Homo sapiens: one gene and its partner. The protein of the gene in region 1 interacts with the protein of each later gene in a biochemical or structural test. Each region holds a gene or a part of one and is shown in the gene's direction. Other genes may lie near its edges.

The links. The genes of interacting proteins can lie anywhere in the genome.
Region 2: the proteins of RHOC (region 1) and ANTXR1 form a complex in vitro, tested with the Homo sapiens proteins (one study listed by BioGRID).

What each region holds. Positions count from the first base shown.
Region 1 is NC_000001.11:112,700,631-112,704,127, reverse strand, and holds the end of RHOC (rho-related GTP-binding protein RhoC precursor), read left to right. Parts: intron 1-321; 5' UTR 322-328; coding exon 329-484; intron 485-1,008; coding exon 1,009-1,129; intron 1,130-1,434; coding exon 1,435-1,565; intron 1,566-2,414; coding exon 2,415-2,588; 3' UTR 2,589-2,997; downstream 2,998-3,497. UniProt on the Homo sapiens protein: Regulates a signal transduction pathway linking plasma membrane receptors to the assembly of focal adhesions and actin stress fibers.
Region 2 is NC_000002.12:69,180,556-69,184,281, forward strand, and holds part of ANTXR1 (anthrax toxin receptor 1 isoform 1 precursor), read left to right. Parts: intron 1-1,230; coding exon 1,231-1,326; intron 1,327-1,937; coding exon 1,938-2,105; intron 2,106-3,726. UniProt on the Homo sapiens protein: Plays a role in cell attachment and migration. Interacts with extracellular matrix proteins and with the actin cytoskeleton and thereby plays an important role in normal extracellular matrix (ECM) homeostasis.

The sequences.
Region 1 (3,497 bases):
TGAGCAGCTCTCTAGCTACCTGGAGTCCCCAGGTTGGCAAGTGGATTAGATTGAAACTCATGTTTTCCAGCTCCCAAGTGGGGTCATCATCTACCTCCCACCACTGTATTCTAACCCATCGAGGGAGACCTGTCCCTGACCCAGAGATTAGGAATTTCAAGCTCTGTTGTCGCACAATTGGTGTTTTGCCAGAACATGCCTGAGCAAGCCCCCTGTCCCTTTGCTAGATGCCTCGGTTTCCAGGGAGGTTTGGGGGCCCTAGAGAAGTGTTTTTGGACTTAATGGCTTTTCCTCAAATCCCCAATACGTCTTTCCTGGCAGCCCCACCATGGCTGCAATCCGAAAGAAGCTGGTGATCGTTGGGGATGGTGCCTGTGGGAAGACCTGCCTCCTCATCGTCTTCAGCAAGGATCAGTTTCCGGAGGTCTACGTCCCTACTGTCTTTGAGAACTATATTGCGGACATTGAGGTGGACGGCAAGCAGGTGAAGGCAGAAATGCCCTTCCCACCCCACCCTGAGACCCCGCCCCCCAGTCACTGAATGACCTAGTATGTCCTTCCCCATTCCTACCCCTGTCTTTGCTTCATTCTCCCTGCTGGAACCAGTAAAAGTTAGGAAGTAAATCTGCAGTCTTAAAAAACCTGGATATACTTTCTGGTTCTCCCACAGACTGGCTCTGTAACCTGGGCCGAGTCCCTTTGCCTCTGGGTTTAAGCTCCCCCACCTGCAAAATGGGGATGATGGTAAGACCTCCCTCAAAGGGTTGTTGTGAGAATTAACCAAAATAATGGTGCTCACAGTGGCAACTCAAGGGTCAAACACGTCTTAGATTTCTTTAACAAACTGACCTAATTTATGTTGTGGGACAGTGATTAATATAATGCCTGGTGCATAGCAGGTGCTCAAATAAAGAAGTTCAGTGAGCCCGAAGGACAGTGGTTTCAGGGGACCTTTGGGTGGCAGGGTTGGGGCCCTCAGGCCAGCTACTCACTGGCCCTGTGTGTCAGGTGGAGCTGGCTCTGTGGGACACAGCAGGGCAGGAAGACTATGATCGACTGCGGCCTCTCTCCTACCCGGACACTGATGTCATCCTCATGTGCTTCTCCATCGACAGCCCTGACAGCCTGGGTGAGGGGATTGGAGGGAGGGGACTGAGAACCCCTTGGAATCAGCCAGAGGTCTCGTGCCTTGGCCTGTCTTCAGTCATCTTCAGAGGTGGGGGTGGGGATGCAGGGGAGCACTCAGGCCCTGTTGGTCTCCTTTACTGTGGTAACTGGCCCTCTGAGGGCATACTACTGTTGAGGTTTTGAGCTGTGAAAGGGACCATCATGCTGAATGGCTTCTAAGACTGCTCTGGGAAGATGAGGGCCCCCCCAGGGGAGCTTTCTAGCTTAAGTGGAGGCACCGACACCTGTTGGTGCATGTCTACACAGAAAACATTCCTGAGAAGTGGACCCCAGAGGTGAAGCACTTCTGCCCCAACGTGCCCATCATCCTGGTGGGGAATAAGAAGGACCTGAGGCAAGACGAGCACACCAGGAGAGAGCTGGCCAAGATGAAGCAGGTGGGTACGGCTGCCAGGCTGGAGCCCCTGGGGAAGAATGCACCCTCTGAGGGGTTGCAGACGGGCAAAGGGAACTTCTCTCCAGCTACTGCCGTGTGTTAGGGGAAACAGTAATATCTCCTGGTGAGGGAGGACCCATAGGGTTGTGTCTGATGAGGTATCAGAATGAAGTGACTTGTCCAAAGTCACTTGGCATTTTTATTTATTCCAGTTAATTGTCCATTCCGTTCAGAATTGGGACTATTAAGATGATTAAGAAAATCTGCCCTCGGGGAGACAGCTTATGTTTCACTTGGGATACCCAGGCTGTGCCATCAGAGTGCCCCTGGGGGAGGTGTAGGGATGTGGATGCGGGAATGAGGGCAGGCATTGTGTAAGTGGCTGGAAGAAGGGATGTGAGAGCTGGCTTATTCAGGGACCTGTAAGTGGCTCTCTAGCCAGAGGACTAGAGTTTATTAGAGAAAGCTGTCAGGATAAGAAATGCAAAGATAATTATGGCAAAGTTTCAAACTGGGGAGATGTTAGGTCTGTGTGTTAGAAAAATAATTCTGACTGGAAGAGAGTGAGGATGGAGGCAGAGCAGTCAGGAGGTGGGAGACGCTCATTCAGGCAAGAGAACCAGGGGCTGTGTGTGGGAGGAGGTGGGGCTGCATGGGAATGGAGGGAGTAGACTGGAGGGATTTTTGGATCCCTGGCCACGAAGCTGCCCAGGGTAGCTGGGGCCTGGGCGCTTTCTGGGTCAGGGCTGGAGAAGGAGGCATTTGTTCCAGCTGCTACACTTATGGGTGAGGCAGGAGAGGTTCATGTAGTCAACAGCTTCCTTTGACCCCTCATCTTATGTCTTCTCAGGAGCCCGTTCGGTCTGAGGAAGGCCGGGACATGGCGAACCGGATCAGTGCCTTTGGCTACCTTGAGTGCTCAGCCAAGACCAAGGAGGGAGTGCGGGAGGTGTTTGAGATGGCCACTCGGGCTGGCCTCCAGGTCCGCAAGAACAAGCGTCGGAGGGGCTGTCCCATTCTCTGAGATCCCCAAGGCCTTTCCTACATGCCCCCTCCCTTCACAGGGGTACAGAAATTATCCCCCTACAACCCCAGCCTCCTGAGGGCTCCATGCTGAAGGCTCCCATTTTCAGTTCCCTCCTGCCCAGGACTGCATTGTTTTCTAGCCCCGAGGTGGTGGCACGGGCCCTCCCTCCCAGCGCTCTGGGAGCCACGCCTATGCCCTGCCCTTCCTCAGGGCCCCTGGGGATCTTGCCCCCTTTGACCTTCCCCAAAGGATGGTCACACACCAGCACTTTATACACTTCTGGCTCACAGGAAAGTGTCTGCAGTAGGGGACCCAGAGTCCCAGGCCCCTGGAGTTGTTTTCGGCAGGGGCCTTGTCTCTCACTGCATTTGGTCAGGGGGGCATGAATAAAGGCTACAGGCTCCAACGTGTGTGGCAGCTTTCGGTCTTTCCCTCTGGGTGCTTGGTGTCCCATCTCTTTTCATGTCCAAGTTGCTTGCCAGCCTGGCCCCCTGTCTACAAAGCAGGCCAGTGGCCAGCAGGGTGGAGTCTTAGAGCAAAGGATGAGGTCATGCCTGGCTCTGGGCCAAGGAGGCGGGTGAAGGGAGTGGTCTGTAGCAGGGGGCTAAACTTAGAAACCTGTGGGTGGCTTCCCTGCCACCTCCCACTGGGTTTCCTCCCCCGAGTGTGGGGGCTGGGTTCCTCTCCAGCTGGGAGGGGATGTGACCCTCAGCAGGGCTGAAAGTCCCACCCTTCCCTACAGGGTCAGCTTAGGGGCTCAGGAAGCTGGGGCCAGGCAGAGGAGACATTATCAAGGCTTTTGCATAGAACAAGATTTTGTTTTCAGAGTTTTCTTCCTTCCCCTTCCCCCAATTGTTAGCAGCTTGATGTGTCATTCTCCCCAGCAGGGGAGGGGGTGGAATGGCT
Region 2 (3,726 bases), on another chromosome or scaffold:
ACTTCTTGTCACTGAGCTAAGTTGCAGACACTTAATTAACTGCTTTATTTGAGTCATCTTATTTAACTTATTTGTAAATTCAACAGATAATTCTTGGGCACCCACCACATACAACATAGTGCTATTCTAAAGACTGGGAATACAATTGTAAGCATGACAAACAAAAGCCTCTGTGGAACGTACGTTCTAGTGTGGAGAGACAGATATTAAGTAAATATCAAGCCATGATGAGATCCTTAACTAAAAATAAAACAGATTGATGGAATGAAGAGACCGCGGCTACTTTAGAAGAAATTTCCAGGGGAGGTTTCTCTGAGGAGTAATATGAAAATCCATCCATCAGAAGATGGGGTGGGGGAAGTGCTTTCCTAGACAAGGGGACAAGGGGACACTGTGCACAGGCCCCAAGACAGGAATTTGCCCAGAGTATTTGAGAGAGGGCAGGCAGGCTGGAGCTCAGGAGGAGGGGGGCACATGATAAGGAAGAAGGCCAGAAAGGTGAGCAAAGGCCAGAACACACAGGGCAGAGCTGGCGTTTGCACTTACTCTGCTGCTTTGTGGAGAACAGATCATAGGTGAGTCTTAGGGCAGCAGGAGGCCAGTTGGGAAGCTACCACAGTGTCCATGAGCAAGTGCATGGGGGCTTGGGCCCAGGATAGTGGTGGTGGGGATGGAGAAGTCAACAGATTTTAGATCTTTAAGTAGTAGCAACAGAACTAGCTGGCAAGTTGGGACAAGTTGGGGAGAGGCAGTAAAGAAGAGAGAGGCAGTGGGGAAGACTACAGGAGGAGCATGTTTAGGGTAGGGAAATCAGGACATCTCTGCTGTGGTGTTGTTGAGATGTTTTTTAGCCCCCAAATAATGTGAATGTCAAGTGAGCAGTTGGAGTTCAGAAGCATCAGGGCTGAAGATGTAAAGTCACAAGTCATTAGCATGTAGGTGGGGTTAGATGCGATTCCCACAAAGGAGTAGAGCTGTAGAAGAGAACAAGAGAACAGGACTGTACCACAAACTTACCAGGTAGCACTGCTTACATTCCCACTCTACAGATAAGGAAAACAAGCTTAGGTGGTTTCAGTGATTGGCCCAAGGTTCTAGGAAACAGTAGCACTGGGATTGCACCCAGGCAGTCTGACTCTATAAGCTCTACTCCTAATCACTTGGCTGTAGTAGGCAGGTCCACACAGCAGTGCTGTTTTGCTTCCTTCATGTGCCACAATTTCTCTGCAGGAAGAAGATGATGATGGTCTGCCTAAGAAAAAGTGGCCAACGGTAGACGCCTCTTATTATGGTGGGAGAGGCGTTGGAGGCATTAAAAGAATGGAGGTAAGAGGACAGCTTCATATACACTTATCTATGTGCTGACTACTCCCATCGAGGTACCAGCCGGGCCTGACCCTGCTTAGCCTCTAGATATCAGGCATGCCCAGGGCAGTATGGCCGTAGACCACACTGATGACTCAATGTCAGAAACCCAAAGCAAATTGCTGAAAACCTCCTTGAGGTCTGGTGGGGATATGGATTGTAAGGCAGACGGATGGAGAGATAGGAGGGACAGCCTTTCACTGTGCGTTTCCATGTCTTGCCCACCGTGAGTCAGAGCAGGTCACACATCAGCTCAAACGTCCTCGTGATTTCTTTTCTCACTGGAATAAAATCCAAAGTTCGTACCTGAACCTGCAAGGTCTTTGCATGTGCTGTCCCCGCTGCCTGGACAATTCCTCCCTAAATATCCACCCATGTGGCTCAGCTCTCTGCTCCTTTGGTCCTCCCCTTTTCTCTTTTTCCACAGTTTCCCTCTTCCCTGGCCCTCAAAACCCAAAGGAATCCAGGGTTGGGTAGCATTCACATTGCAACTCATGCATGTATTTGTCATTCTCATTCTCGAGGGGCAGCATATTTTGTCATTTCATTTCATTGTATTTTGTTTATTTTAGGTTCGTTGGGGAGAAAAGGGCTCCACAGAAGAAGGTGCTAAGTTGGAAAAGGCAAAGAATGCAAGAGTCAAGATGCCGGAGCAGGAATATGAATTCCCTGAGCCGCGAAATCTCAACAACAATATGCGTCGGCCTTCTTCCCCCCGGAAGTGGTACTCTCCAATCAAGGTGTGTCTCTTTACTCAAAAAATCTATCATCAGTCCTGATAAAACACTTACATAGTGAAGAATCAAAATCTTTCCACATGATAAAATCCCAACCTAAAACCCAGCTTATCACAGGGGAACAATTATCTAAAATTATGGACTTGAAAGTACTAGTAATTACTTTGTCAATTTCCACATAATCTGGGTTGAAAACTAGGCTTTTTAAAAATCACCGTGGTGCTCACTTCTGCAGCACATATAGTAAAACTGGAACAATATAGAGAAGATTAGCATGACCCCTGGGCAAGGATGACATGCAAATTCGTGAAGTGTTCCATATTAAAAAAAAAAAAAAAATCACCATGGCAAGGTACTGGAAAAAGCATGGACTGTGAGTCAAGTAACTTGGGTAGTAACCCCAGAGAGTGACTATAAATTTCCATAGCATCTCATAACTTCACTTAGCAGACAATCTACTATCTAAGAAAAATGGCAGCCTTCTCCTTAATGCTAATCTCTACTCCTTTTGCCATAATATAAGCCCATTCCCTTTTATTTGCGCCTCCTGCCAGTGTATCAGGGCCCACCAGCAAATCTCACTGGTCATGGATCTAGGACTCACTCTTTCTGGTTGTAAGCAAATCTTTTTTCTCCACCATCTGTCTTTCCCCCACACCTCCAGATCTTAAAATCCTCTTTGGTTTATTGGGAAGTGTAAACCGTTGGAGGCAGTTAATGTTTCCTAAAGGCCTCTTTTTTATTTTCTATTTATTTATTTTTTGAGACAGGTTCTCACTCTGTCACCCAGGCTGGAGTGCAGTTGTGTGATCTCTGCTCACTGCAACCTCGACCTCCCAGGCTCAAGCCATCCTCCCACCTCAACCCCCAAGTAGCTGGGACTACGGGCACGCACCACCACACCCAGCTAATTTTTGTTTTTTTTTTTTTTTTTTTTTTTTTGAGGGACGGATTTCACTATGTTGCCCAGGCCTGTCTTGCACTCCTGATAAAGCAGTCTGCCCACCTCGGCCTCCCAAAGTGCTAAGATTACAGGCATGGGCCACCATGCCCAGCCTGAAGGCCTCTTTTCTATTCTTCTTGGTCCAAATGGCTTTGAATTCACATGATTCAGTTAACACCTTCAATCTTTAGCCATGCCCATAAACATCTGCACTATGCCACTTGTCAGAGAGCACTGGAAAATTATAGCTGAAAAGACTCTAGACATAATCTGTCCCCACTCTCTGATTTCATACTGAGATAGGCAAAGTCCTTGTTCTGCTGAGGTCTGGAAAACAAGGCCCCCAACTCAGGGCTACAGACTCCAGTTTCAAGCTGCAAACAGAACCGAACCAACTCCAAAGCCTCAAGTCAAAGACTCAATAGAGCCAGCTCCCATCACCATCCATACACATACACACACTCACACACACACACACACACAGCCTTACCCCCCTTCCAATAGCAACAAAGATTATTTTCATCATTCGCTGAGTTAATTTGCTAATTTTGGATCAGGGCTTCTCCAACAAATCAAAAGAAGTACCATTTCAGGCAGTGTAGCGAAACGTTATTGGTGGTTACCTTTCCTCAGCTGAGCTAGCTCAAGCTCACCTGAATTGCCACGCATTTCTATTTTGGT